Linked DNA regions of Homo sapiens: region 2 is linked to region 1. The links come from fine-mapping of genetic effects on gene expression. A gene starts in region 1. The other region holds a variant in brackets. All regions are shown on one strand. Distances are between the middles of the regions.

What was found.
Region 2: its variant is fine-mapped to the expression of SLC25A38 in lung (GTEx, PIP 0.98). The same link has a PIP of 0.9 or more in prefrontal cortex.

Annotation. Positions count from the first base shown.
Region 1 is chr3:39,376,153-39,391,498 of GRCh38, reverse strand. SLC25A38 (solute carrier family 25 member 38) reads right to left here and starts at 8,129. Exons shown (of 7, transcript NM_017875.4): 1 at 7,706-8,129; 2 at 1,883-2,004; 3 at 992-1,076; 4 at 1-58. The coding sequence starts at 7,774. LOC105377037 (a long non-coding RNA gene) reads right to left here and starts at 14,987. Exons shown (of 3, transcript XR_001740661.3): 1 at 14,919-14,987; 2 at 13,822-14,023; 3 at 10,347-10,572. It overlaps LOC105377644 (a long non-coding RNA gene), which reads left to right and starts at 7,174. Exons shown (of 3, transcript XR_007096252.1): 1 at 7,174-7,258; 2 at 8,455-8,546; 3 at 10,379-12,068. RefSeq lists enhancers at 6,921-6,990, 7,461-7,510, 7,521-7,620, 7,641-7,820 and silencers at 7,081-7,230, 13,248-13,297.
Region 2 is chr3:39,517,411-39,532,756 of GRCh38, reverse strand. It overlaps a transcript of MOBP not described here. Among named protein-coding and RNA genes, the nearest start is that of MOBP, 57 kb to the right of the region's middle. The variant T/C (reference allele first, on the strand shown) is at 6,871.

The sequences.
Region 1 (15,346 bases):
TCAAAGAGTAGAGAGTGCCAAAGTAGATTCCAACGCCAGGGACACATCTCACAATGGACTGCAGAGAAGGTCAGGGAGAAAAGAAAATCAAAGACCAAACACTTTAAGTATTATCTTAGCTGGGTTTTCCCAAAAGACCCCAAGATGATTCGCATGCAAGTGCTTTGTTTAAGGTGTGGAAGGAACACCAATAGGGAAGTGGGGGACATGAGATAGGAGAGAAGGCAGTCAATAAACGATGTTATAAAACCAGTTTCTGCTGTGGGCAACTTAATCCCACTGGGGAACTCTGGGAATCGGTGTAGAACACACCTCAGAGTTATCCCTCCAACTGAGTGGGGAGGGACATGGGATTTTAAACACCAACTCTCATCTTTCAGTGGTTGAGGACTCTGTGGGTTTGGAAATGCACAGTGCTGTGGGTTAGGAAATCAACATCACTTCTGTGGTCTCCTTGCTAAAAATGTAGAACTAAATCTAATCACAAAGAAACTGCAAATAAACCTACAGTGAGTTATATAACTGGCCTATACTCTTGAAAACAAAACACAAAATTACTCTGAAGTACATTACTGGGATAATAGAGAAATCAGTGTATGGATTTCTGATTTGGGTTTGGGCTGGGCACTAATTCCTTGGCGTGAGTCCCTAAGGCCAGAAAAAGCCTTTGAGCAAAGAAATGCTGGTGTGGAGGTACCATCCCACTTTTACTGAAGTGATAAGAGCAAGGGCATTCTGACAGGTGGGACATTAGGTACCTATGCTGTAGAGACTATGCTGCACTAATAAATCACATCTAAGCATAATGTGCAAATGCAACATATCCCTGAGCCTTCAAACAGAAGTTAGTTGTAGTATGAGAGATAAGACCACATAGGTACTCCCACCACTTCTGACTCTCACATATCCTTAAGAGCTGGTAAGGTAGATGAGAAATAGCTGGTTATTAAGGAGTGGATGCTAGGGAACCTAGACCCAGATGGCAGCTTACAGGGGACATCCCTTTCCAAAGGCCCAAAAGACTCTCCGTGCGAACCACCTTCAAGAGTACAGCCAACATCCCAACACGTCTAGACCTGAAAGCAGACAAAATGGAGACAGGAAGGAAAAAATCACTTAGATCACTTCCTCATAAAACAATTCCCCACTCAAACACTTCCTTTATAGACTCATTTTTAGGACACTTAACAATCTCTACAATGCACCTTGGAGATACTCTATGTGTTCGTAGGTTGGCACACACAAAACAGACAATAGAGGCTGGGTGCAGTGGCTCATGCCTGTAATCTCAGCACTTTGGAAGGCTGAGGTGGGCAGATCACTCGAGGCCAGAAGTTTGAGACCAGCCTGGCCAACATGGCGAAACCCCATCTCTACCAAAATTACAAAAATTAGCTGGGTATGGTGGCGAGCACCTGCAATCCCAGCTACCTGGGAGGCTGAGGCAGGAGAATCCCTTGAACCTGGGAGGCAGAGGTTGCAGTGAGCTGAGATCGCACCTCTGCACTCCAATCTGGGCAACAGAGCGAGCATCTGCCTCAAAAAACAAATAAAACAAAAACAAAAACAGATAATACTGATGTTATTTCCAGAAAATCCCCTGGTACTCTCATGCCAGGCAATACAGTTATAACATCACAAGCTAACACAATAAAGTGTAAATGTCACTGAGCCGATTCCAGGAAGCTGCTCAGGAACGGACCCCATTTAATTAAAAAGAAATGTCAAATATAAAAACAATTCAGAGAACATATGAAAGTTGGGCATGGCCTGTGTTTCTCTCTGAACATCCAACAGAATGGAAGTTGACTTAACACAGTAAAGATGTTCCTGTGTCTGAGAAGTTGCTGAAATCAGTTCCCCAATGAAATGCAGGGCCTACCCATGATCTGAGGGCTGGAGGGTTTGCAGGCGTGTTTTAAGGAGATCCAGAGGTTGGAAAAGGAGGGTAGAGCAGGTCCCACTGATGGAGCCACACAGGAAAGCCTTGATCACCGGATGTAACTGCAGGATAAGACAATATTGTGTCAGTAGCTCTGCCTGTGTGAGCCTCACCTTTCTCTATACCTGACCAGCAAATTCCTTTATAATGGTCTCTTAGACACTTACCTGGTGGTGCCTCATGTTTTCTTCATACCTCGGAGAAGGAAAAAGTATAGCCAGAAATTAAAAATACTGCAATGTTATTGAGGACATTGGATGCTGCAAGAGGTATCTCTGGTCTTCGTATTGCTGATAGACATATTGCTCAGTGGGAGCAAAACTATTTCCATGCCACTGACCACTCTTCCCTATTTGTTCTGACTCAAAAAGTTACTGGTCATCTCCCTATCTTTGCAAAAGCAAAGTCAATTGAATGCAGTGCTTTCACTTTGAACTGATGATGTGCAGACTCCCTTCGCTCTAAGACCTATAGGTATTTATAGGACCAAGCCAAAGCAAATGAAACCTTAAGCTCAACCACTGTGTAAAATGTAAGTGCCACTTCCTGTAGAACCTAGTATTTCCTTCATTTAAAACTTTCCCCTTACCATCTCACTGGGCCCTAAGCAGATCACACAGTCCTACAGACCAGTAGCCTCCCCTGGCTTTGCTGCTTCTCCTTCAACCCATGAACCGTCATATACACTGGCTAATCTACAGACACCACCTGGAAGGGTGGAACTCCTTCAAAGACTAAATATACCTCCCTTAGTTCCAGGAGCTGCAGCTTCCAGCACTGGTGCTATCATTACAGGACAGCATCCTTTCTCCAGACCCCTAGAACCCAGTAGTATCACAAATGACTGTGAAAAGGTACTTAAAATCCAACCAGTGACCTTCTTCCCCTTCCCTAAAATAAATAAATAAATAAATAAACAAATAGCTATCTTCTCCAAAAATGTTTGGCAAATTCATCCCCAAAGACCTCTTCCCTTATTAAGTGGCATTTGCACTATTATTTTTTAAATAAATGACACATTGTGGCCCTAAAACATTAAGATGAATATATATAAAGTTTCCATTACACATCACATAACTACTTACCTGGAACTGAAATATTTGTAATCTGCAGTATTTGCTTAACAGAGAAGAGAGTGTATCTCAAATTCCACCAAAGAAGCCAGTTATAACTGGAATTCCTCATAAGACTGTTGGAGGCAGGGGGTGGGGGGAACTAAGGTCATTAAAAACTGGAGTTTACAACCACGATGCAATAACTTCTGAAGTACCAAAGGGTGGTCTGATAAGACAACAGGTAAAACCAAGTAAGGTGTGCGTATTTTAGCAAGTCTGTATCTACATCAACTCCCTCTCCCCAAGAGGTGTCCTGCTCTTCTGCCAACCAATATTCTCATGAGTTCTGTGTTTCTAGTCTCTCCCCAAGACTTTGTGGCATTAATGAGCCCCCCTTCTTCACACACTGGGTCTCTCGCTCCCACTGGCATCTCCTCTTCTGCCAGGCAACAGGCTCCAAAGCATCCATCTTTCCAGCCTGACGCTACACCATCTCCACTTGCTCTGTGCCAGTCCCTCCGCAGGCCCCCCCAGTTTGCTATCCAGCTAAATCTCCTCCACTAACACAGCCTCTGAGGGCTCACCAAGCACCTGCTGCACCCCAGGACCCCGTTCCTGTCCCTGCCCTTATCTTACTTGGCCTCTCTGGTACATGCCATATAGCTGAGTGCCTCTCCTCACAGTTTCTGGTTTCTCTCTCCTTCTCTTCTTTGGCCTGCCCTTCACATAGGACTGCTCCTCTTATCTCCTTTCAGAGTAACCTCACCCATATCCAGGCTTCACACACATGCTGGTAATGCCCACATCTCCAGCCCAGGCTGGCCTCTCCCCAGACTCTGCTAATGTCTCCTTGTCTTCCCTCAAATGGCCCACAGGCATCTCAAATTCAACATGTCCAAAATGGAAACTTGGTCAACAGTTCTCCACACACTTGCCTCTTCTCCAATCCACACTGGGATACTCCAGGAATCCAGGTTGGAAACCTCAGAGACACATAAAACTCACCATGCCTGCTGCTACATGACCAAGTCCCACTGACCAAGCCCTCAATCTTCCCAGTCTGGCCTCCACTGATCCATCCTAATGACCTCTGCAGCAGTCTCCAGCCTCAACTATGCCAACCCACCCTCCACTCTGCTCCCAGAGTAGCACTGGGCGAGGCATCTATAGACACCACCTCAAAATCTCATAGCATCTTATGAGCTAGGTATTTTAAACCCGTTTTACAGATTAAACTGGAGCTCACAGAGGTTACAAATGTGTCCTATGTCACAGGGGTTGAAGCCACTGGCCAGGACTTAAAGTTCATACTCTTTTCACCATACCACCCAGTCTAAAGTGAAAATCCAGGATACTTAGGCCACTCAGTGCATTCCACTATTCACCACCACTCCCTCCTTGAAATGCTCTCTTCCTTTGGCTTCAGAGATTAATACTGTCCTGGGTTTCCTCCCACTTCTCTGGCCTCTCCCTTAAATGAACCATACTCCCATGGCTCTTCATCCACTTCCAAGGGTTCCATTTCCACCCTCCCCTCCACACTCTCAGCCTCTCGCTGGAGCTCAGTCTCACACAGCCACGTACTCAGATGGCCACCTCAGATGATGTTTCCAAACCTGAACTTACCTTTCTCCCACACCTCCGACCAGCTCCTCCTCCAAGGTGCCCCATCCCAGTGAATGCCATGCCATTTCTCTAGCACCCCAGCCAGAAACCTGAGCACCATCCTTGGACTTGGCCTCTCCACACTTGTTCACTCTATCTCCAAAACAGCTCTCAAATCCACCAATCCATTCCAGCTGAGAACCCTGTTATCTCTTGCCTTGGTGACGGCCACCAATTTTTTACCCATTTGTCATCTATATGACCCCTCTAATCCACTCTTTACCCTGAAGCCATAGTCATCTTCTGTTTTATTATTTATTTAGAGACAAGGTCTTGCTCTGATGCCTAGGCTGGAGTGTAGTGGCACAATCATGGCTCACTGCCAACCATGACCTCTCAGGCTCAGGTGATCCTCCCACCTCAGCCTCACGAGTAGCTGGGACCACAGGTGTGTGTCACCGTGCCCAGCTAATTTTTTTGTAGAGACGGGGTTTCGCTATGTTGCACAGGCTGGTCTCAAACTCCTGGACTCAAGCAATCTGCTCACCTCTGCCTCCCAAAGTGTTAGCATTATAGGTGTGGGCCACCATGCCCCGCCTGAGTCATCTTTTAAAACTGCAAATTTGATCATGCTGCTTTCAGAAATAAAACCCTTCAATGAAAGATAATGTTTTGTGAAATTTGAAGTTACTAGCTTAAAAACAAGACCAAAAAAAAAGATGGAATAAAAATACAAGTAATGACAAATGTATTAGGAGCTACAGAGTATCCCACAAATTTGTCATTAATACTAATTGAATTATAATTTTAAAAAACCCAACCAAACCAATACCCTTTAATTGGTTCATATTCCTCTCAGGATAAAGTCCAAACTGCTGGTTGCAGGGCCTTTCATGTATCACAGGGCTCCTGCTAACCGTTTTGGCCTATGTTCTCACCCTCCCACTAACACACTCTGCAGCCATACTGGAGGACTCCGCCTTACTTTCACCTCTGAAAACTCTGACATGTTGTTATGCCCTAGCACCGGTCTTGCTCCCTAACTCCCCCATGTCCAAGTTCAGTGCCTCTCCTTCCGGCTTCTACAGCAACACCTGTCCCCATCTCCCTTATGACTGCGTGTCAAAGACAGAATAGTCACAACTCCTGCCTGTCTTGTTCATGGTGATATCTCAAGAACTGACCTCGGAGCCTGGTGCACAGTAGGTGTTCAGCAGTGACAGCGGAATGAATCTTACCACCTAACAGGAAACCTTATGCTCTCCCTTTGAGCACAATCCCACATGATAGGGCTCGGTGGGCCCTGCATGACTCATCCCAGGATGGGTTAATCTCCCCCACCTCTCTCCAGGCCCCTTGCTCCAGCAAGGCTATAGGAATGACCTGCAGTTAGTTTCTGGGCAGTTATGTTAGGCGCTGCTTCCCCAGTGCTCACACAGGTGCTGTGTGGAATTTGTTTTAAAACAAATTTGCTGCTGTCCTTGACCTTCCCACCCTTGATTGCAGGAAATATCTTCTTAACGTCTTTTATTTCACAGCACAGTGATTAGACATGTTATTGGCTCAAGTTATTGAGCCAATAACTTTTTTAGCTTTGTACTTTTCCCAGTCCATTAGCACAGAGCAGATGTTATTTATACTAGCAGTATAGATCAACTTCTAATAGGCAAAAACAAGACAACAACAACAACAAAAACCATCCCAACAGGTAATACTGAATGGTCTTAAGATTTTTGTCAATGGTGAATGGCACACATCCTTTGCGAGTGAACTTAACTTTTAAAAAGTAGCTCAAGGCCAAGCGCGGTGGCTCACACTTGTAATCCTAGCACTTTAGGAGGCCGAGGCAGACGGATCACTTGAGGTCAGGAGTTCAAGACCAGCCTGGCCAACATGGTGAAACCCTCTCTCTACTAAAAATACAAAAACTAGCCGGGCGTGGTGGCGCACGCCTGTAATCCCAGCAACGTGGGAGACTGAGACAGGAAAAATACTTGAACCCGGGAGTCAGAGGTTGCAGTTGAGCCGAGATCACGCCACTGCACTCCAGCGCGGGCGACAGGGCGAGACTCTGTCTCAAAAAAAAAAAAAAAGAAAAAAGAAAAGAAAGCTCAAAAATATATTCAAGGTAAATAAAAAAGTAGTTTCTTTTTAAGGGGAGAAAGAAGAGGGCATAAACAATAATACGCACACGAAATAAGTAGCACATAAGAGTACAAACTGGATCCACAAGCAATTCCTACTGCCCTGAAAAAACTATCCTAAGTCCAATTCACATCTGGAGGCGAGGGCTGGAGAGCCCTGAAAAAGGTAAGCAGGTTTTCAAAGACGTCAACGTAAAGTCGCCACCGCCGCCGTCTCCGCCTTTAAGGATTAAAAAAAAAAATAAAAGCCGCCCCTACCTCGGGCGCAAGACCTCAGAGGGAGAGCTGCGGCAGCTGCAGTGGCCTCAGGCCTTTAGCGTCTAAAGACTGGTTGCACCCCGACTCCACCTACCGGGCAACCACGCCGCCAGCCCCGCCTCCGCCTCCACCAATAGCGGCCCGGCGGCCCGGGCACGATGACCAATCGAACGCCGGAGGAGGCGTGGCGTCGCTGGGGGACCACGCGCCGTCCCAACAGGCTGGAAGGGTGCCGCCACGACTGGCCCCTCCAGGTAGGCCGCCGCCCGCGGGCGCACAGCGCTACCCGGCCAGCTCGCTGCGGCATCAACGGCTTCTCAGCGTCAGCGCTATTATCAGGCCTTGTGACCGTCCCAAATCTGCCCGGGTGCCCTTCCACCTGGCAGCCTACTCGCACCTTGTGGGGGCCGCGCGGGCACACTCCCCGGCACGCGTCCAGTCCAGGCCCCGGCAATTCCGCCCTTTACCGGGACATCGGCCCTACAGCGCCTGCCCCCAGGGCTGGCCTGCAGCTCCTGGCCTCTCCTCACTCCCTGCCCCCTTCTCAATTCCCTTAGTCAGACTCCTCTCCCGCCGCATCCTAAATCCTGAGCGCACCCTGGGGCGCGGAAAAGGGTAGCCGAGCCTTAGCAACGCCCCGAATTCTCCGGCCCGAGCCCGCGGTTCGGACCCCTGCCCTTCCTTCCCCGCAGTGCCCTCACCATAAGCGTTTCCACCGTGTCTCCGACATCTTGGGGTTGCAGCAGCGACGGACGTGAGTTCTGAATCATTGGAGATGAGGCCCGCGAGTCCTCTGGGCCCAGGGTGCCGTCGACGGGCGCTTGGGCCCAGCCCTGGAGGCCTTGAAGAAGGCTAGGGGGTGGCGCTAGCCAGGCGACGCGCTTTAAGCCGCGGGCTCTCTGACGTCTGCGCCTATAAGCACGCAGCCGCCGGGGTTCGGATCCTGCTAGTCCAGGGGCTGCGGGCGCGGAACAATCTTGCTGCGGGAATTACGCGCCGCTCTTCACCCGCGCCGCAGACTCCGCGGCTCTGCTCTCCTGCCCATCCTGCCCTGCTGCAGGCTTCAGCACCGTAGGAGATGAGGTTCTGTGTATCCCGGGGTGGAGGAAGCGCCGGAGGAACTCTGTAGAAGGGGAGATTTCGCTTCCGGGTGGGACGCTTGTCACGTGAGGGTGTTCTGAGTGCCACCTGGTGAAAACGCCCAGAACTGAAGGATCCGCGCTTCCTTGCACCCAGAACTTAATGGAGCGTCTGCAGGGAACTTTGCTTTTGCGTGGAACGTCTGAACGTATTTACAATCCAGACCTGGTCTGCCCAGTAAGGCAGCCACTAGCCAACGTGGGCTATTGATTTATTAATTGATACATTAATTTTAATTATATTAAAACAAGCAGTGTGGAATGCTTTCTCCTTAAACAGGCGTTTTTTTGTTTTGTTGTTTTTTTTTCAGGACCATATTTCCCTTTAAATGCTGAAAATTTAGTGTGGAATTGATATGTACTGTATGCATAAACCACACGCTGGATGTCTAAGACTGGTGAGGTAAAATCTCAATAATTTTTATATGTTGAAATGATATTTTGGATATATTGGGTTAGGTGAAATATTAAAATTAACTTCAGGCCGGGGGCAGTGGCCCAGGCCTGTAATCTCAGCACTTTGTGAGGCCTAGTCTGGAGGATTGCTTGAGGGAGCCAAGGAGTTGGAGACCAGCGTGGACGACAAAGCAAGACCCCGTCTCTAAAACAAATAATAATAACTTCATGTGTTTCTTTTTAAATGTGGCTAGTAAAACATTTAAACTTTAACATGTGGCTCCCATTACATTTCTGTAGGACAGCGCTGGTCTAGTTGGTCAAAATTCTGGTTTATTGCTCACCTGGAATCTGTCAATGGCTTTTTTGGTCTCCCAACTTCCCCTTATGCCTGTCTGGCTGATCCATGGAAAAGCATTACTGCTGGGATCCTGACACTCCTGTTGAAAATGCAGTGGCCCTGGTAATAAAGTCCAAGCTTTTCATAGCAACCTTCGCTACTTTCCACCTTCATTCATCACCCAAGAACTAGATCAGAAAGGAAAGTGACTTAGGGAGCAAGATAATATTTTTTCAGGCTTCATTCCTGTGCTTCTGAGGTACATAGAACAGGAAGGAAAGTGGTCCCAGAGGAGGTTATTCCCAGAAAGGATTAAGGAAAGTATAAACATTAAAAAAAAAAAAAAAATTACAGGCCGGGTGCGGTGGCTCACGCCTGTAATCCCAGCACTTTGGGAGGCCGAGGCGAGCCGATCACGAGGTCAGGAGATCGAGACCATCCTGGCTAACATGGTGAAATCCCGTCTCTGCTAAAAATATAGCCGGGTGTGGTGGCAGGCGCCTGTAGTCCCAGCTACTCGGGAGGCTGAAGCAGGAGAATGGCGTGAACCCAGGAAGTGGAGCTTGCAGTGGGCCGAGATCGTGCCACTGCACTGCAGCCTGGGCGACAGAGCGAGACTCCATCTCAAAAAACAAAACGAAACAAAATTACAAACCTGCCTGGTGATTGAATACTTTGCTACCCTTTGTTCTAAGCTGCAAGGCTTATTTTTCTTTGTGCAGTAGTGATGTTGATAACTATGCACTGAAACTTCTTTTTAAAGGAAGACCTAATTCCACCCTGACACCCACCCCCGCTGCACTGATTCCATAAGACAAGAATCCCTACTTTTGAGAAATCATGGGTTGGCGTATTTTAGAGACTGCTCTTGGCCACTCTGGGTGTGGGAACACAGGTGGGATCTAGAGTGAAAGCCGGCCCTCCACTCCCTCACCCTTCCAGGTATGCCTGCTTGGCTGTGGGCTCAGAAGAAATGGGCTGGCTTTCAAGGGTGGCAGCTGGCAGATTTCCCTCCTCTGTATCTGCTCCTGCCATGCTTACTCATAACTCTAAAGCCCACAGGCCCTTCTTTTCCCACATCTCCTCCCCTGGATGTTTGTGGGGATGCAGAGATATATAATGATCATGGGGAAAGAGCATCACCCATTGGCAGATGAGTGGGGGGTTTGGAGCAGTACTTAATGGCAAAGTTGGAGGAGTGAATTTTTTTTTTTAAAAAGAAAACATTGTGACTTTAATTCAAAACAAGGTCATTAGCATAAGGCAAGCCTTAATGGATTTATCTGCAGTCAAGGGAAGGTGATTTGGCTCTTATGACCTAACTTCCCTCAATTACACACTGGTCCCTCAAAGATCCAAAGTGGCCCATGTTTTCTGGATTGTATGATCAGGTTACATGATGTTTTCCCATCCCAAGGATTGTAGACACCCTCTACCCAGGAAGAAATACACATGTATCAGTTTGGATACATGACCTCCTCTTAAAACTTTATTCACAGCAAGTCTTGACATCTGGAGGAGTTTCCACCATCCAAGAAGGAAAAGGCAAAGGTCCACATGGGAAGCTGGAGGTGAATGGGAGAGACAGAGGCTGCTCAGATAGGGGCTTTGGTTTCCTGTCTGCCTGTCAGAGCAGGAGGAGGTGGGCCTTGCAGCACCTTGCATCTGCGTCACTTCATTTGTAAGAAGATGGCTGGAATGGTGAAAAGCACACAGGTAAATCACTGCCCCCACCTCCATGTTTCCAGCAGACCAGCTCAGCAAGATCTTTCTACCTGCCTGGAGCCAGAGCTGCTTCTGGAAATATCTAAATTTTCTCTTCTACTGATGCCAAAACAATGAGGCCAGCCTTTGCCTTTTGGAAACCAATAGGGGATTGAGAGGGGAGATACCATGCATTCTCTCTGCTACAACCTCCCTTACCGCCCATCTTCATCAGTCTCTCTATGCCTACTGGCCTCTCAGGTCTAATGGGCATCTTATGATAGTCTTCGTCCTGTAACTAATGGAGGCTCCTCTCCATCTGAATATCTGCTCCCATCCTAAACATGCACAACCTGAAAGAGAAGCCTTAAGAGTCTCCAAGGGCACTGTCTTCACCAGTGGGGGAAGCCACTCTTTGCCTGATCACAAGAATGGGTGAATACTGCAGAAAAAAAGGGAATTCTAATGGCTTTACCCAGAAACTTCCACAAAGAGGATGGTCCTGTCACTGCTTTTGGCTTCACAAGAAGGAAACACCTTTCTTCCTTCTGTGCCAGTGACTATTGCCTGTAACCTCACCCCTGAGCCAAGGGTGACCAGGCTACGAGAGAACAATGAGTTAGAGCGGCTTACAAGCTGGTATCCGAGGGAGGGGCAGATGGCTCTGTGGGGTGGACTGCGTTCCTGCAGGAGTGGGATCTTCACATTCTACTCCAAGGACCAAGTTGTTAGGGGCAGTGGAAGGGAGAGGAGCCATGGTGCGTGCCCAGGCAGTGTGGTGTTTTGTGTTTTGTCATATGGAAGCCACAAGTCACTCCATCAATATTTTGACAAAGCAGTTCCCCATCTTATGGAAAAAATCAAACTCTTCTTGTTTTCCTGCTTTCTTCACAATGAGGAAACGGGCAACATTTTGGCTAAAAGTTTATAAACATAAGCACATATTTTCTGGTCACAAATCTTCTAGGTCCTGATTGATCTGAATTTCCCACAGGGGTAAGCAGGACCCACTTGTGGTTTTGTGGTTTGCTTATAGCTCTATCCATATGTGGAAGGTTTTTTTTTTTTTTTTTTTGGAGACAGAGTTTCACTCTCGTTGTCCAGGCTGGAGTGCAATGCTGCGATCCCGGCTCACCACAACCTCCGCCTCCTGGGTTCATGCAATTCTCCTGCTTTAGCCTCCTGAGTAGCTGGGATTATAGGCATGCGCCACCACGCCTGGCTAATTTTGCATTTAGCAAAATTAGCAAAATGTTGGTCAGGCTGGTCTCAAACTCCCGACCTCAGGTGATCCGCCCACTTTGGCCTCCCAAAGTGCTGGGATTCCAGGCATGAGCCACCATGCCAGGCCAGCTTTTCTTTATCTTGGACAGAATGACTTCATTTATAAGCAGCATCTTGTGTAACAGTCAGTTTTATGTGTCAACTTGGCTAGGCTATAATACCCAGTTTTCAATTAAACACTAATCCAGGTGTTGCTGTGAAGGTATTTTGTAGATGTGGTTAACCTCTGTAATCAGTTGACTTTAAGTAAAGGAGATTATCTTTCATAATCTGGATGAAAGAAAATCAGGACACATATTTCCCTGACAAATACACCTTGTTTCCCTTCCTTAAAGGGTAGAGGCTATCTCCTGCTTTTTTCTGTGTGTCTTTGAGAGACCACTGAGGCAGAGTAATGCTGTAAAAAGAAAGTGGACTTTGGAATCAGGCATTGATTCTGTATTTGATCCTGGATTTGTCACCTGCTAGCTGTGTATTCACCTCAACTTTCTTGTTTGTTATTTTGAGATAAGTCTTGTGCTATTGCCCAGGCTGGAGTGCAATGGTGTAATCTCAGCTCACTGCAACCGCCGCCTCCCGGGCTCAAGTGATTCTCCTGCCTCAGCCTCCTGAGTAGCTGGGATTACAGGCGCACATCACCACGCCCAGCTAATTTTTGTTTTTTTAGTAGAGATGGAGTTTCACCATGTTGGCCAGGCTGGTCTCAAACTCCTTACCTCAGGTGATTGCCTGCCTCGGCCTCCCAAATTGCTGGGATTACAGATGTGAGCCACTGCGCCTGGCCAGTTTATGGGCCTTAATTAGAGGTCAAGAGTGAAGCCTCCCATATATAAAATTAAATACTTAGGGTAGATTCAGTGGCTCCGGCTTGTAATCCCAGCATTTTGGGAGGACGAGACAGCAGGATCTCTTGAGCCCAAGAGTTCAAGACCAGCCTGGGCAACATAACAAGACCTTGTCTCTACAAAAATAAAAACAGTAGCCAGGTGTGGTGGAATGAGCCTGTAGTCCCAGCTACTCGGAAGGTGGAGGCAGGACAGTCTCTTGAGCCCAGGAGTTCAAGGCTGCAGCAAACTATGACTGCACCACTGCACTCCAGCCTGGGTGACAGAGCAAGACCCTGTGTCTATGTTTTTTTAATTCCAAATACTTACCAAACATCTGCATTTTTACCAAAAATCTCAAAGCAGAATTTCTAATGACAGATTAGGTATGTAAATTAGAAGTCTTTCCCTCTGGCCCCTTTGTTTCTTAACACGCGTGGCACTCCATCATCTGCCATTCTTTCCCATCTGTTCTCTTTCACCCAGTCAGAAGCTCAGCTCAAACTGGCCACTAGAGGGAACACGTGTCCTGTTCCCAACAGGTTCTGGGTCCTGGCTTCAGGTGTCTGTAAATTACCTGATAGTCCCACTGGCATTGTCACTGAGCTACTGGCCTTGGGTGTACCAGGGTGAAGGCACTGGCCCTTGGTCCCAGACGCTGCCCCTTTCCAATTCCTCATGTATGCTTCATCTGTCTGGTCTATACAGGAGACCAGCTGTGGTGGGAAAGTATAAGGAGATGCCAGGAGTGGCTTCGGATAGAAGTGGAGAGAACACTGAACTAAAAGTCAGGAGTTTCTGATGCTAGTCCAATATCTGACAAAAACTCATTGTCACCTCTCTAGGCTTCAGCTTTCTCACGTGTAAGATGAGGGCCTTGAACTAAGTGGCTCCAAGTTCCTTTTCTGGGCTAATATCATATGAATCAGGGATCATGATCTCCAGACTCCCTTGGTCCTGACTTTCAGGCTAATGCAAGCCACAGAGGAGATATAGGAGATAGGCTGGGGCACAGATTGCACTGAGGAAAATGCATATGCATAAACAAAGTTTTGCCAACAGTTCTGTATTATTTAGAGCACCCCTGCAAGCCCAGTTAAACCCTACTGGTGTAGGGGGTTTCAACATACCAGGGACAGCTTTAGCAATCTTAGTAAGGTCTGCTTCTTTAAGGAATTGCACAGAGCACCAACAACCTGGAAGTCTTGTCCATGACCCATCCACAGTCTTCTCCATGAACTCATTGTAGAGCCTCACCATGATGGGGCTCCAGCTGGCACTGGGGAGGGAGTAATCCTTTGTATCAGACTGGAGGTGGCTACTGCTTGAGACCTGAAAAGTCCAAAAGGGGTGGTGGACTGTCCCCAGTACCTTCCGATTTGACTCATTCATTCAAGCATTTACTAATAGATGAGTCTGTTTTCATCTTGCAGAGCATGTACAAATACCCAGAGGTAAGAGAGAGCATGTCAGATTCCTAGAACTGTAAATGTGGAAACGTCTAGTAGGAGGGAAGGAATGGAAGGGAGGAGGCCAGAGGGAGAGCCTGGGGCCCTCCATCAACCATGTAGGAGAATGTAGGCTTTATGCTGAAGAGGTTTAAGCAGGAGAATGAAAGGGTCAGATTTGCATGTTAGAAGGATTTCCGTACACGGGAAGTTACAAACTGGTCAAGTCTCACTCACACTGGAGAGCCTTGCTGATATGCAATTCAAAGACACATTCTTTCCCCTGCCTGTTTCCTTTCAGCTTCCAGCTCCTCTGTGCCTCCCTCTCCTGCTCCCCAGTTCCTTCAGGTTCTGCTTCTAAGACGGTTCACCTTGTTTGACTATGTAGTTTATTTTATCTCCTTACTGTCCTATTACAATCAGAAGGCTCAGCCATCATCCTGGCTAACACAGTGAAACCCCATCCCTACTAAAAATACAAAAAATTAGCCGGGCATGGTGGTGGTTGCCTGTAGTCCCAGCTACTCGGGAGGCTGAGGCAGCAGAATGGTGTGAACCCGGGAGGTGGAGGTTGCAGTGAGCCGAGATCGCGCCACTGCACTTCAGCCTGGGCGACAGAGTGAGACTCCATCTCAAAAAAAAAAAAAAAAAAAAGGCGGCTCAACCAGAGACTCCCTTTTCTGGGAGACAGAGTAGATGATTGAGTCCAGATAGCTAGTCCTCCCCACTGGGAATTTTGGATAATCCATCACATGACAACACCTTCTTTTATCTTCTACCTGGTTATTGTTTGAATTCACTGGTGCCAATCCGTCCTTCCTGTTCTTGGTACAGTTTCTACTTTTTCTGGTGCAGTTTCTACTTTTTCTGGTGCAGTTTCTACTTTTTCTGGTGCATTAATCTGGCTTACTCACAATTCCCTCTATATGCTCTTCTCTACCTAAACAGATGGAGAGAAACATAGCTTCTTAAATTACTTATAAATAGACAAGTTCTTAAAGGCGAGGGGTCAGGTGTGAAGGAATGATCAACAATTGTTACTGCCATTCTGCAGGAAGCTCTTCTTTTGTGAGCTAGTGGATGGTAGTGGCATTTGAATTCAATCTCGGAAACTTTTTCCCATTAATATGCCACACTTACTGCTGCTTGTCACTTAACTGCTCTGAGCATCAATGTTCAAATGTGTAAAAATGAGAATAACACCACC
Region 2 (15,346 bases), 140 kb before region 1:
GTTGGATTTTCCCAACTGTCTGTGTGCAAGTGATGGATATCTTTGTTATTTTAAGTTTTTTTGTATGTTCATTTTGGTGTTTTCTGAGGTTTGTCATTGCTTGCTCTTCACCATGCATTTTCATTGCTTTCTCTCTCCCACCCCCTCATAGTTTCAACTCAATCTCCACTGTCTTCCCAGATCCTTCAGCTCCTAAGGGCACCTTAAGACCTGCTGGCCCTGCAGGAGGACACCACAGTGTTTCTTTTTCTACAGAAAATATATTTCTGAAATCCACTGCCAACAGTCCATCTTTCTATTCACTTCACCCAAGCAGCTCCTGAGCTTATTTTAATTGTTTCTGGCAGCCCTAATTTTTGGAAACTTACATCTTATCTGTCTTTAATTTTGCTAAAATGGTGTTTAATTTTAGCATTTAACAACTCATTTGTTGCTTTCTTATGACATACAAAAGAAAGAGAAGGTTACTGATTCACACAAACATGTTTACATTGGAATTCCAACGTAATTTCTTTTCTAGAATAGCCAAAATAATACATGCCATTGACACAAAGAACAATAAACCTATATTTTATATAGGTGCATTTCTACAGGTCTTTTAACAGGTAGGAAATAGTATAGATAGACATTGACCCAAAAAATAGCAATTTAGGCCCTGTCTGGCTTTAGAAATTAGTTAGCCCTGGTTTTCAACATAGGAGTTGAAACCTATGTTTCAACATAGGAGTAGGTCTCAGTGGGAACAAGGAGTCCATTTATTTTCCAAAGGATTAAGCTCAGAACATTTGGGTGGTGTTGCCAATGGGATCAGGAAACTTCCAAGTCAGGAAATGTCTGGCTGAATGATATCATCAGTTCAAAAAACACAAAACTGTAGCTGGAAATTGAGTAACCCACAATGCCTGTGAGTCATTAAGTTGACACAAGGAAGAAGAGGTGTGCTCAATGTCTGGAGTCAGACAAGGTGGCAAAATCAAGAACCCCAGGGGACAGCAGGTCAATACGCAAGTCAAGAAAGCCAGTGACTCGGGCTGCTGGTTCAAATCCCTGCCACATTTCGTACTAATTTTGAAATCTTGGGCCACTTATTAATGGCTTGGAGCTGATTTATTTCTTCTACAAAATTTAGATAATAAAGCTATATATCTGAAAATGTTGTCAAAATTAAACATCTGAAGGGCTTCAGTGTCTGGCACATAGTAAACACTCAGTAAATGGTGACCACATTTTATTAAGCTGAATGAGAAGGATGATGGAGTAAATCTGGGGGGAATCAGGATCCAGCACAAGCCGAAACCTGACCAGAAAAGGTTGAGAACCAGCGTTTTGCTCAATTCAGAGATTCCATCAAGCTGTGGCCTATGACATTTGGTCTTGTTCTGCCTGGATTTGAAGGGTCCAAATGTGGAGTAGCTGCATTATGCCACTTTCTCTACAAGCCTCTGTGACTCACCAAGTGGCCAACACTGGCCAGACAACACATAGAAGCATCCTGGCCACTCACACGCGGGAGAGGGCAGCAACAGCAGGAGCCACTCATCCGTTAGGAAGGGCGCCTCAAGACCTGCCAGCCCTGCAGGGGAACACCAGGCAGTTTCAATTCAAGATTTACTAGGAAATGAGGGATGAGAAGTAGAGTTTGCATAGGTGTCAGAATCTCAAGTGCTCTGAACATCAGCTGTGTCACTTTTAGGTAGGTCTCTAAACCTTATTTTTTTCTCATCTGTAAGCTATTATTGCATTATGGGTAAATAAGATAACATGTTGTCTTATAAAATACCTAACAGCACATAACAAAGTAAATCTTTAACACATGTCAATGGAAGTGGGAAAATGGTATTTAAGGATCTGTGGTGATGGGTAAGTGACTGGATGAGAACAATTCAGTTTTTTCTACAACAACAATTGGAAGCATTGGTGGTTGTGCCTGAACACTTAACAATGATGTCCATTGCATGGTGAGTTTGCTCTGGTGCGGTCAAGCACCTTTAGGAGCCTGTGAACAAGTGTACGCTCCATCCAGTTGGGACGCTCTCAGAACTGTTGTGCTTTAGGGACTACTCCCCTGAGTCCTTGTCTCCCATTTCCTCAGCATTATCCCCTTGTCCCCAGAGACACCTTATGTCCCCAGGAACCTTATGGGTGCCATAAGGTTCAGATAGTGATAGCAAGAGACAGGAAGAAGTAAAGCAGCATCAAAAAGCTACATGATAGAAATCCTTGACATCTGAGTAAGGAAGCAAAGCCAGGGAGATAGAAGAGTGAGTAGCAGGAATGAGTGAATTGTATATGGAACATGATTTTGACTATAAACTCACCTGCCTGTGACTATAGAAATTGACTTCAAGTCCCCAACCTGTGAAGAGAGGAATTTGAACTCCTCAAAATACCCCTAAGTTGTTTTCAGGCATTCACAATGAGGCCAACAAACCAACACACCCCAGTAATTATCATTGAAGTCCCCCTTTTCTTCTCCTCAAGCTGACATTCACTGTCTGCAAAGGCAAGACAAGTCTCTTGTCTCATCCAGGCCCCTGTCACTCCTGTTTACTGAAGATCTAAAGATAGAACCTTCTGGATTTTTTACATACATCCAGGATTTTTTACATACATCCAGGCAATAGGTTTTCAATGGTGTCCAGAGCAGAATGTCCCAAATCCCCACAAGTTACCTGCAGTTATTTAAAGAGCCAGTAAAGGACAGATGCTCCTATGTTGACAGCCTCCCTTTTCACCCTCTCTCCAAGGGTCTCATCTTTTCTTCATAGATATTATGAGCAAGGAGAGCAGTTTGTTTGGAGAAGGAGGCTGTCTTGATTGCTGCGAACCCATTTTAGCTCCTAAGCCCCAGGGTGCGTTGTCCCAGTGACATGCGAGAGAAGAGCGAAGTGACTCAGCGAGGCAACACTGACCATGGCAGGGCTCTGATCTCTCACACACCCATTCAGGATTTATGCACGTATACAACACCAAAGCCCTGCTTCCTGTGTTCCTCGCTTGATCCCACCCAGTTCCCACTTCCATCACGCTGTCCTCTGGACCATCCCACAGTGCTGCCCACTTCTTGCTAACACCAGGTTCCTCCTGCCACCTCCTTCGGGGAAAGTGATTTGACCTCCTAGTTGCACATGTTCAGTGCTGTGCTAACCTGTGTTGATGACAGACCTGTTGTTAGTTGGTTTCCTTCAAATTTTGTGTAAACCATAGTGTGTGTGTAAAATACAGACTTTGCAAATAAACATGTTATTATGGGCACCAATTGGTGTTAAACTGGCCATTTTTTTTGCTCATTTTATTATACATTTAGTTCTTACAGACATCAACTGGCATTATTTTGACCTGTTTTTCCACTTGATTTTTGCATATTTGGTTGTTTTAGTGCAAGTATGTTTTTCCCTAGATATTCATGGTCAAACTTACACCTTGGCATTTTACTTTGTTTCTTCATGTATTTCCTATACTTTATTTTTAAATCTCTTTAGGAGAAGAAGCTCAGTTACAATCTAAATTTTTGTGGAGTATTGTCCCTTTACATTTCTCCTGTTACTTTTTTAACTAGCTTTGATACTTCTCCTTCACCAACATACTGTTTTTCTCTTTGATACTGACCACTTGCTGTTTTGTGTTTATCACTGTCCACTTACCTAACATTTTCTGACATCTGTAAGATTTTCTTCCCTTATAGTGAGTCATAGTGAGCCCTGCTGAGGGTAGAGAAGCTGATTCTGCTTTGCCACCTGAGGCGCACAGACACGTGGTAATAAAAATAACATAGAACGAGGCTGCAGAGCCCCGCACAGAGGAAAGCACTGTTGGATAAATGGCCATAAACAACACAACATAACTTGCAATAGTGCCCACACACTACTAGTTGATAAAACTCAGTGTGGCTTTCATGGGAAGAAGCAGGCCTACTCTGTGCAGCTGCTGCTGAAAGACTAGGAAAAAGTGTGATTTACAAACAATGCTTAAGGTCATCCCTAGCATCACTAGAAGCCCTGATTCTCTCCAATAGGCTTGCATTATTTTCTAGCAAATGAACCACATTTCATGGAGAACTTTGATTTTGTGATAATGTCCTGTGACACTCCCTTCTGACTGTTTTGTCTCCTTATAGAAAGAAACAACACCCTGCATTTTCAAACTGTTGATTATAAACTCTTAAATGTAGACCTCACATAATTGGGGTTCATCAATACACAGCCTTTTCAGTAAACAATGCCAGAAATTCAGGTGCGTTTTTCAGGCAATTTTATTTCATCTTCCTTTTTGCATCCTATGGACTTGTGACTCTCCGATGCCCTAATGAAACCCTGCTTTCTCTCAACATCTAGAATTCACAGACTAATTCTGATTTTTTTTCCCTAGCTTGAGGTATGGAATCAACTATTCTTCCAACAGGCAGTGGTTTCTCTTTTCAGAAAATTGCTTTAGAAGCCACAGGCACTAGGTCTACAAATAAGCTTGTTCCATATTCCAACTAGAATTTGTCAGGATGACAGCAAAAATATCCAAGAGCATAAATCACTGTAGGGACAGAACAGATAAAGTCTCCTTATAAAAAATGTCCATGGGTTCTTATTGACATTTCTAATTTACCTCTATTTTAATATGTTCTTTTGCCTTACTCTAATAAAAAGTTTATGAATCCATTTTTCAACTTTTGAGCAACTAATTTTTCTTGTTTTCATTAATGTTAACAATCACAAAAAGCCATATATTGTCATACCAAATCACAAGTCTAAATTTCACTGCCACCACCCCAAAATGCAGGCGGCTCATATCTTCTCTTCTTTCTTGACCGTCAGCTCAGCCATCCTGAAACCGGCTTTACAGTGTGCAGATCCCATCAATTCTTTGGTCAGCTTCATGTTAGCACCAATATCTGAAAGGAAGGAAGCCCCAGCTTCCATCTAGATGAACACCAAAGAAACTAACAGCTCAGAACACTCAGTATGATACATAGATACGCTGTTTGCTTAATAAAAGATAATAACAGGCCGGGCGCGGTGGCTCATGCCTGTAATCCCAGCACTTTGGGAGGCCCAGGTGGGTGGATCACCTGAGGTCAGGGGTTCAAGACCAGCCTGGCCAACATGGTGAAACCCCATCTCCACTAAAAATACAAAGAATTAGCTGGGCATGGTGGTGGGTGCCTGTAATCCCAGCTACTCGGAAGGCTGAGGCAGGAGAATCATTTGAACACGGAAGGTGAAGGTTACAGTGAGCCGAGGTTGCAATGAGCTGAGATTGCGTGCCATTGCACTCCAGCCTGGGTAACAAGAGAGAAACTCCGTCTCAAAAAAAAAAAAAAAAGGAAAAGAAAAAAAGGAAAAGGTAATAAAAGGTGAATCTAGACAAATACTACTTTTCAAAGTTTCAAAAATATTATCTGTCAATTTTCTCCATTTGAGCTCCCTAATTTGAATTTAGTTTATATTCTCTTTATATTTTTTCTCTTACTAGTGCCTTTGTATATTTATGGAGCACAAATTTTAGTAGTAAACTCTAGCTTCACAGAGGGCCATGGATATATACAGTGGTGCACTGGCACCAGCTTGTGCCAGCTGACGAGAGTCAATTGTGTGCTTCTCTTCCCAATTCTGCATCAAATTTGCCAATTAAAAGACAAATGGTAAACTCCAGAGAATCATGTTCATAGCTTGAAATCTGCATCATGGTCCGGGCGTGGTGGCTCATGCCTGTAATCTCCAGCACTTTAGGAGGCCGAGGCGGGTGGATCACCTGAGGTCCAGAGGTTGAGACCAGCCTGGCCAACATGGTGAATCCCTATCTCTACTAAAAATACAAAATTAGCCAGGCATGGTCGTGGGCACCTGTAATCCCAGCTACTTGGGAGGCTGAGGCAGGAGAATGGCTTGAACCCGGGAGGTGAAGATTGCAGTGAGCCAAGGTCGCACCTTTGCACTCCAGTCTGGGTAACAAGAGTGAAACTCCATCTCAAAAAAAAAAAAAAAAAAAAGGAAGGAAGGAATCTGCATTGTGGAAATATTTACACCATGGAAATTAGCAATCTCTATAAATTAGGCCTTTTTACCCAGAGACCCAGTTGTTGGGTATTTACGAGGAAAACTCTTTTTTCCCAAAATTTTTCCCAAAACCAGTCAAAACATCAGAACATAAAATCAGTTAACATCCAGAATTATCAGTCATATTCCAGATATTATGGTTGAGAATTCCCACTCAAGAAGTTTACACAGAGTAGCTTTTGGAGCTTTATGTAATTTTTGCAATATTTACTGGTAGTGCTCCTCAGAACCAATCCTTAAAAGATAAAAAATATAACTGGATTATAGCACCTTTTAGTTATAATATCCAAGGCACATTACATTTAGCTATTCACCCATTTCAAGTAATTGTCAGATAGTTTTGATTCATCCCCAGAAGGTTTTATTTCCACAACAGACAAACAGAGAATTCAGTAGTTTCTTGTTACTAACATTTCTGGGCTAATATCTAACTTTTTGCATGAATTAATATGCACTATACTCTCACCTCCACAATCATTCCATAGCAAATGTGTGTCTTCTGGATGATGTGGAAGAGAGAGCCCAGCAAGCACTATGGGCCTGGCTTTGCCAAAATCTAAAACAGGCCAAAGGGATATTAAATTTCTTATTTGGTGTGGGTTGGGCTGGGCCAGTAATTTGTTCTCACTTACAGTGGTCTGTCGTATGTTTCACCACCACCACCACCCTGCACCTCACCATGTTATTCCCAGGAATGTAATGGCCTCAGATATCCCATCATTGGAAACACTTCATAGTAGAGGTTACCATTTTGTTGTTTATTTAGCACCTGAATTTAGGCAAGAGAAACATTTCTACCTGAAGACTCCATGCAGTCAAA[T/C]TTCCCTGCCTTTATATTGGAATTTCTACAGAGACCCATGGTCTCCCCAAGTGAGGAAGCCAGGGCACTCAGCCCTCACCCTCCAGCTGCCTTGGGACAGTACTTGCCTGATTCCTCTTTCTGGGGGCGTGGCACTCTGAGCTGTATCTCATCTGGATCTATCACTCTTCCTTCATACTCTGTGGCATTCTCTCTCATCCTAGCCCCATACCCTGAACAAGACTTCATCTGACATTGCCCCTATATTTTTACTTGCCTCTTAAACTTGGCTAGGAATGGTTGTGCCCACTCAAGGACACAGAGCCATGGCCTTGTTGGATCTTTGGGCATCCGACTGTGCTTGGCCACACCAGCTCCTAGCACAAGACTGTTCCTGATGCTCTTTCTTTCCTCTAATCTGACTTCCCCTCTACCCTAGTACTGTCCATTTTACATCCCTCCACATTCTGCAACATTCTATTTTCTTCTTCATTTTCCTACCTATTACTAAACAAAGGTTTGGGTGGAAGGACGTATTTCAACTCTTCCCCATTTTTCCCCAAGTCAGAAATCATCAGAAGCCACAAGAACAAGCCCAGATCCAAAACTGAACCCAAACAAGTATTTTTGTTTTCTAAGACATATAACCTTGAATATACCCCCAGGCTTTTCAACTATCTTTCACCTATCTCTTCAAACAAATATGTCCACCTAATATTGTTAACCGTTTATATATAGCTTTTAATTTGTTATTTCTTCAAACCAGGAATTATTTTAAATCTTTTTTTTTCCAAAAGGATAGTTTTATTTTTGGGATACCCTTTTACTTTGTTGTCATTTTTATTCTATTGCATTATAAGAAAAGTGTGAGACCTTATGGCTTCTGCTTATTGGGCAATATGCAATATAATATTGTGTGTTGTTAAAATTTATGCATAGTATATTATATTACATTTGCCATCTACTATTTGCTTTTCATGTTCCTTATTTTGTCCTCTAAATTTATCTATCTAATGTGTGTATGTCTGATTTGTTTTACCTTCTATTTAATATTTTTATTTATAAATATACCACAGGTGATTCACTCATTCTATTGGTGGACATTTTGGTAATTTCTCATGATCTCTCTCCTATTTTCAATGCCAAACAATGATTCCTTGAACAGATTTACGTGTACCTACTTTTTCTATGAATTCAAGTTTTCTCTAGGATGGGTGCCTAAAATTATTATTGCTTGATCACAGGTTGTACAATTTTCTGCTTTGCCAGTATCCCCAGATTGCAACCCAAAGGTGTCATAATAATTTATAAATTCTCATCAGTAGCTTATGAGAATTTTCCCCACATCTTTGCCAATACTTGATTTTTTTTATTTTTGCCACTTTGATGGTTGTATAACATCTTTTTTTTTTCCACATGTCCCTGGAGAAAGACATGTATCTTCAGATTGAAGAAACTTGAGTCCTGAAGAGAATAAATAAAAATAAATCTGTACTTAGTGACATTATAGTGAAACTTCAGAACACCAAAGACAAAGAGGAAAATCTTAAAAGCAACAAGGAGAAAACACAATTTACTTACCGTGGAAGGATAAGCAGACTGACAGCAGATCTCTCAGTGGCAATTATAGAGGTCAGAAGACAATGGGATGACATCTTCAAAGTACTAATGGGCAGGAAAACCTGTCAAACTACAATTCTATATGCAGCTGTTCAACCCACAGTTATTCCCCCAGTGGTTGTATCTGTGCATCCCCAATTGGCCTCCCTCCTTTCTTCACAAATGGATACTGCTCCTTGACCAAGAGGGTGAGAGGTGTCTGAAGGGTGGCAATCCCAGCCCCTCCCTCTCTTTATGATATTCCCTCAGAAAACATATTTCCATCTAGGTGTGCTAAACCTTTAGATTATAATTTTTTTCTTAGCCATCAGGATGCTGCAGGGATAAATTAAAACTTTCATTTCCCTCGGTTTGTACAATTGCGCTGTGGGGGAGGCAAGTCAGTCATTAATTAAGAAACTGAGGCACAGATGGGTTAAATGACTTTCCCAAACTCACACAGCTAGTGAGAAATAAAACCATGTCTCAGCCCAGTTTTTGTTACATAACTCCATGTCTTTTCCAAGATTGCAGTGTTCTTGCCCATTTTCCTGACACTTTCTTTGAGCCAATACTCTCAAAATGCCAACAACTGGAAGGTGTATTAATTTACTAAATTTGCTCTTATGGGAAGGTATTAAAATTAAGCAAAATAATCAAGATTTAGGCCATAAGTTAAGAAGAAATATCAAGAAATTGAGTGTATGTTTACAAATCAGATGATTTCTTTTAAAAATAAAAAAAAGAAATTATGAAAGAATTAAATTAGTGGGGAGATAAACCTTGTCATGGATCAGAAGAGTTGTTATGTTTAAAAAGTCAGTTCTTCATAAATTGATCTCCAGATCCAATGCAATTCTGATAGAAATTCCAACTGGCATTTTGGTAGAAATTTACAAGTTGATTCTACCATTTATATGGCAATGTCAATGATCAAGAATAATAAAAGAGCAATATTATAAAAGAAAAAATCAAGATATGTATCAGATTATACTGAGAGGCGAATATACTCCAATGAAATCTTACTTTATAAATATTAACTGTAGATAATCCTATATAGAAATACCCATAGAAATATTGCTCAGGGCAGAGGAAAAATGATTTGTAACATCCAAGGATTTTTGATTAGTTGATTGTTTTGTGAAAGCAATTTTTTGTTAGCTTAAGTAGGACCAGGCACCTTGATCATGAGAGTTACTCTGTGGAATAGTGGCAAGGGTTCTTGTGGAAGATCTGACATTGTGTCATCTACTTCTAGATACTCTGAATAATGAAGGCAGAAGACTGCAGTGCATCCAAAATTCACTGGTCACAGAGGAAGGACTCTGCCTATTTCTTTTGCTCTAAATGGATGGCATTAGTTTGCACTTGGTCCTAGGCTAGCACAGGGTCTCTGGCTGCAGCCCTTCAAGTGCTTTATTTCCCACTAGGAAGAAAGTCATATTTTTGCCTAAATCACAGATGAAATTATTGAATAACTGATTGAGCTGGAGGGCAAAACCAACCTGAAAGTTTTAGGACAGGGGTCAGCAACTTACTGCAAATCTTACAGTATACGGAACCTTTTGTGTAAAAGTTGATACTGTGTACATCTTAAGAAAGAGAATGAGATATTTACTTTGATAATAATGACTTTTCTTACTATTATAATTATCTTTTTTAAATGAATTACAAAAATGGGACATTTCTAGGCAAAGTCTGTTTGTTGTAGCAGAGTAGAAAGTAAGCCAAGTCCATACTCTGCCAAATCAATAGCATGATGGCTTAAAAAGTAGATCAGAGGGGGATTTAAGGCCATGGTTTCAAGACTGTTTCCATACATTCCAGAAAACAACAGTTGTCCATATCAAATAATTGGGGGGAGAAATGAGGGACAACATCAAGGTGTAAAGCCATGGTTCTTGCTCTTATGAGGTTTACATTCTAGTGGTGGAGACAAGTAATAATCAAGTACACAAATAAGTATAAGAGCAAATGCAAATAGTGAATAGTGCTATGAACATGTGAATAAGCAACTTTTTTTGTTTTACTGTATGAGCTCTATCTACATGCAAGCTTTATGCTAATTGCTTAATGTGTTTGTTTTTAATTTGTCTTCACTTGTAAAATGAAGCTTAGAGACCTTCATTCCCTTGTCCAAGATCACACAAGTAATAACCTTCAAACAGGAATTCCACTAGAGGGATGTCTGTTTCCAGGTTGCTTTCTCTGAACCACCTTACATACCACCTCTCCCAGTGATGGAGAAGCAATAGCTGCTGTGGTCAACTCCTATTTCTGGTGAGAATGTGAGAGCTAGCCTGATTCCATACCTTTAGTCCAGACCCACCCTCCTCCCATACCCACTCACCACCACAAGACCATCAACCAATTAAAATGAGCACTTGTCAACACAGGTTATGCGCAATGTACCTGTGATTCTTGGTATCAAGCCCCATGTGGGTGGAAGAGATAGTAGCATAAGAGGAGAAGACGGTATTATACACTTAGGTGTGCTCACCTGTCCTCTGAGGTAGTTGCATGAGTTTTGGCATCAAAAGTTATGGTTCGGACACTCTGCTTTTTAGTCGGACATTTTCATTTTTGAGTCTTTACATACTCAGTAAAACCCTAAATGACTTTATCTTTAATACTGTTTCATTTTTTACCCAGTCAGCAAATATTAACCCTGTTGGCCAGCAACACTTGTGATGAGTAGACTTGCCCATGAATTTAGGAGCAGACACTTTCATTTTTATCTTTTAAATATATTACAAATATAAAAGTGTTTAGTGCTGCAGGGTTCCATGAAAGGGGCTCCAAAAGAAAAAGCATTAAGAGTGAAGAGCAAAAGTTGGTTAGTCCCTTAAAAAACTTTAAACGGGGGCTCAGATTTTAAGACAAAATAAATTCTATATTCACATACACACACAAGCCTGATTTTTCCCCTGTATAAAAAATGTCCTGGTATAACAAAACTGGCTGTTGCATTCCCTGTATGAGAAAGTCACTATATAACATTGTTCTAAATTAGTTCTATCCTAATGGTGGCTTTAATGTTTAGAATATACAGCTGTCTGGCCAGGCATTGTGGCTCACACCTATAATCCCAGCACTTTGGGAGGCTGAGGCGGGAGGATTAACTTGAGGCCAGGAGTTCAAGGCGAACCTGGCTAACATGGTGAATCCCTGTCTCTACTAAAAATACAAAAAATTCGCTGGGTGTGGTGGCACACACCCATAATCCCAGCTCCTCGGGAGCTGAGGCATGAGAATTGCTTGAGCCTGGGAGGCAGAGGTTGTTGCAGTGAGCCGAGATTGTGCCACTGCACTCCAGCCTGAGTAACAGAGCAAGACTCTGTCAAAAAGAAAAAAAAAAAAGAATATAGAGCTGCCTTAAGAAGCAGCTTTATAAAGCCTTGTTGGGTGAGATATGTACACTAAAGTTTTTTCATTTTCACAGACAACTTGAGTTTTTCAAGTCAGAAGGGAGAAGAAATTAACGTGAATTGCCAGCCAAACCTCTTGCATGGGCAAAGACCATCCTGAGGTTTACTGTATCAGGAGCCATGACCTCCTGTCAGCATGATTTTTGAGCAAGGAGACATACGGAATTGAAGGGAGGAAACCCACCTTTCCCAAAACACAAGAAGCGGTAGAAAGAAGAAAGCTACAAAAAGTAAAAAGGGAAGACCAATCTCTTTTCCTCTGTCTCTCTCTTCTCTCTCTCTCTGTCTCTCTCTCTCTCTCTCTCATACACACACACACACATACACACACACACACACACACTCATGAACACATTTGGTACTTTGGTACCAGATGTTCCCTCCTCCTTCTCTGGACTGCAGAAATTCTCTTATTAGGACCCCAAGAGCTCACCAAAAAGAAACTTAGACCAGAAGAGGAAAAGTGTCACAAGAGAAGCTGTGTTCAAGTAGACTGAGGACTTTTGAAGACTTAAAAACAATGCAAGCAATAGTAAGTTAAAATTGTAGGTGAACACAAGTTAAGGAAGCAGATTCAGCAGTGATAGAACTTATCCAACATAATCTAATGTAACTGTGTCATCAGGCCATTTGGGAATTAGAGAGACTTGGAGACAGAATGCACTTGGCTATGGGTCAGCACACTTATCAGGGGTCATTGCTGGTGGCTTGATGGTGGGAAACTGCATAAGTCAGAGCAGAGCTGGTTTGGGAAAAATCAGAGTTAGCAGCCAGGGACAAGATCTGGAGAGAGAAAGCAGTGAAGAGGGTATAAAGTCCAGAGCAATAAGAATATGGAAAGGTTGTTAAGTAGCTCTGCTACAAATCTATAAACCAAGATCTTCTTGGTTTAAATTTAAGTTGTAAAAAAAAAAAAAAAAACAGATGTCATGATCAGAGATGTACGCATTGAGGTGAAGAAAGAGATGGAAGATAGGAGTTAGAAGAAGAGAAAGAGGTGGCAGTACAGATTGTTTGGAGGGGCATGGGGAGGCTGCAGTAAATAGAAGGCTGTGGTCTCTTTCTGCCCCTAACTGCTCCTGCCCCAGCCCCTACCTACTGAGGCAGTGAGCAAATCAGATAAGATCTCAAGTCTCAGAAAGAAGCTGCGGTTTAGGAAAATAATGCAGTTGTAGTAATGAATAAATATACTAGACAGCTGAAAGCACTTGATCTTTGAGTCAGAGGAGAAAACGCATAGAAAAGGAAATGAACTAGATGATTTGAAAATAAAGAGTCAACTGGCAGATTACCATGGTAAAAAGATGAAAAGTTAGGGTCATCAGACAATGCCAAAACCCACATTAACAAGAATTGGAAAAAAAAAAAAAAAAAAGATGCCATTTATAGTCTAAGCCAAATAATGAAGTGTCAGCAAGGCATCAGCTGGAAGAAAAAAATTTTAAACTTGGAAAATGATTTTTTAACTGCTGCCAGCCACCAAAGCTCTAGTTGAAAATAAATGCAAAATCTGGCAGCTGGTAGTAGAGATCCTTAATGATCTCCATGAGCAGAAAACTAAGGCTTTGCTAAAAGATCTGACTCAGAAAGCTCATAAGCCCCAAGAGAAAGAACAGAAGCTGTCAGCTACAGGAGAAAGGGATGTTCACAAAGAATTCAAGAAACGCAGGGTGAATTATAGTAAAAAGAGATTACGTAAAAATCTGTTGAATCTCCATGAGAACAAAAACAGGGCAGGATACCAGGCTTTTTCTTCTTCCTGCATCAAGATTTCTTCCTGGAGAGAATAGAGATGCTGCCTTCCTAAGACAAAAATTACAGGTAGCAAACCCAAAGATTGATGTACTTAAGAGATCAAAGAAATAAAATCAAATCCAGGAAGATCCACTAAATAACTTCCATCCATAAGAGGTCCTAGAAGCCAGCCTGGCTCCCATAGGATGCCCCTGTGAGTGCTGAGGTGTTCTAATCCCCACTATGCCATCCATCTGTACTTGTTAGGAAAGAGGTCTGCCTAGCAGTGAATTGGTTGTGAATGGACTTCCACCTTGGAAGAGAAGGATATATAAGGTGTAAAGAAAAACTTTACCCTTTGATCTGCATGTAAACATGATTGAATTAATAGTCAGAATGTCTATTGAGTCCCACTTTCTCTGAATGACTGCCCAACTCTCCTTGATGGTGGATGCAATAGGATTATCTCCATTGCATCATTAATCAAGTAGAACTGCCTGGAGGTAGCATGGGCCACCACCTGAGCCAGGGAAGTATTTTCAGTGTATTTCAGAGACACTGTAATATTGACCCTGGTATGGTTTCATTAATAGAGAATGGCCCAAGAGCTCTTTCTTTCTGCATGAAGGGTAGATTTGGTTAATGTCGATGTAAATAACTTCCCATCTTTATCAGAAATACGCATCATTAACTCATCACAGGAAGGACTTCCACCACCATCAGTCACCTTCTCAAACATGGACCCAGACTTTCTTCCTCACCCTTACTTCCTGGTGATTTTAAACCTCCTAACTAAAGGACCAACATCCCTGCTGAAGAAACTTAGGAAACTCACACTCTCTTGATCCAAGAGAAAACTTTCTTTCTAGACCCCAGTAACTTGGCATTATTTACCTTTCCCTCTACAAAATCCTTGCACCTTTTGGGTTCTAGGGAGGAGCCCACCAGCCTCTCCAGATACCACTACTGGGTCCCACAGATCCCCAGCCTGAAGTTGTGAATTGACTCTTAAGAGAGTGCATATGCTTCGAAATCCAATATGAATGTTGGTAATTAGATTTAATACTTTTTTAGAACTTAATTTTATTAAGAGATCTTTTTGAGCCAAATGATCAAATTATGATAGATAACTGATTTGCTATGAAGTAAGGCCACTACTTAAGCTGTAGCTTCCTGTTTTCTCCCCTCTCCTCAAACCTATTTTATGTTTACCAATGTCGTTTATATGTCAATGTACCTTATGCAACAGAAATTGATTTTAGTGCCATGTAAAATATAATACTTTTACATAAATTTGTTTAAAACTAAAAATATAGGAATAATTATCAGGACTGTTTCCTCATCTGTGTTCTTCTGCTCACCTGTACTTTGGATAAACCCAGTCAGTTGATCAAAGTCAAAGCACTGAACTTGATGGTAGTAAACTGTTGCCTAAGAGGAAATGAGTAGTCACTGAAATACCAGTCAATTAAACTCAAACCTATGATATCAAATAGTACACTCTTTAATTCAGTAAACCATTTAGAAAACCACTAACACAAGGATTCTATCAATATTTGTTGCATTCGTGAAAATGTAGTCAGACTCTTTTTGTTCCAGTGGAATCCTTTATCTATATGAAGTCAGAAGTCAACATAGACACTAAACATTACTTTTGTTGATGTGAAGGTGTGGCCTGGAGTCCTGCTGGCTCTACCTTCCTCTTATCTCATACAGTGGGATCTCCAAGTACCCCA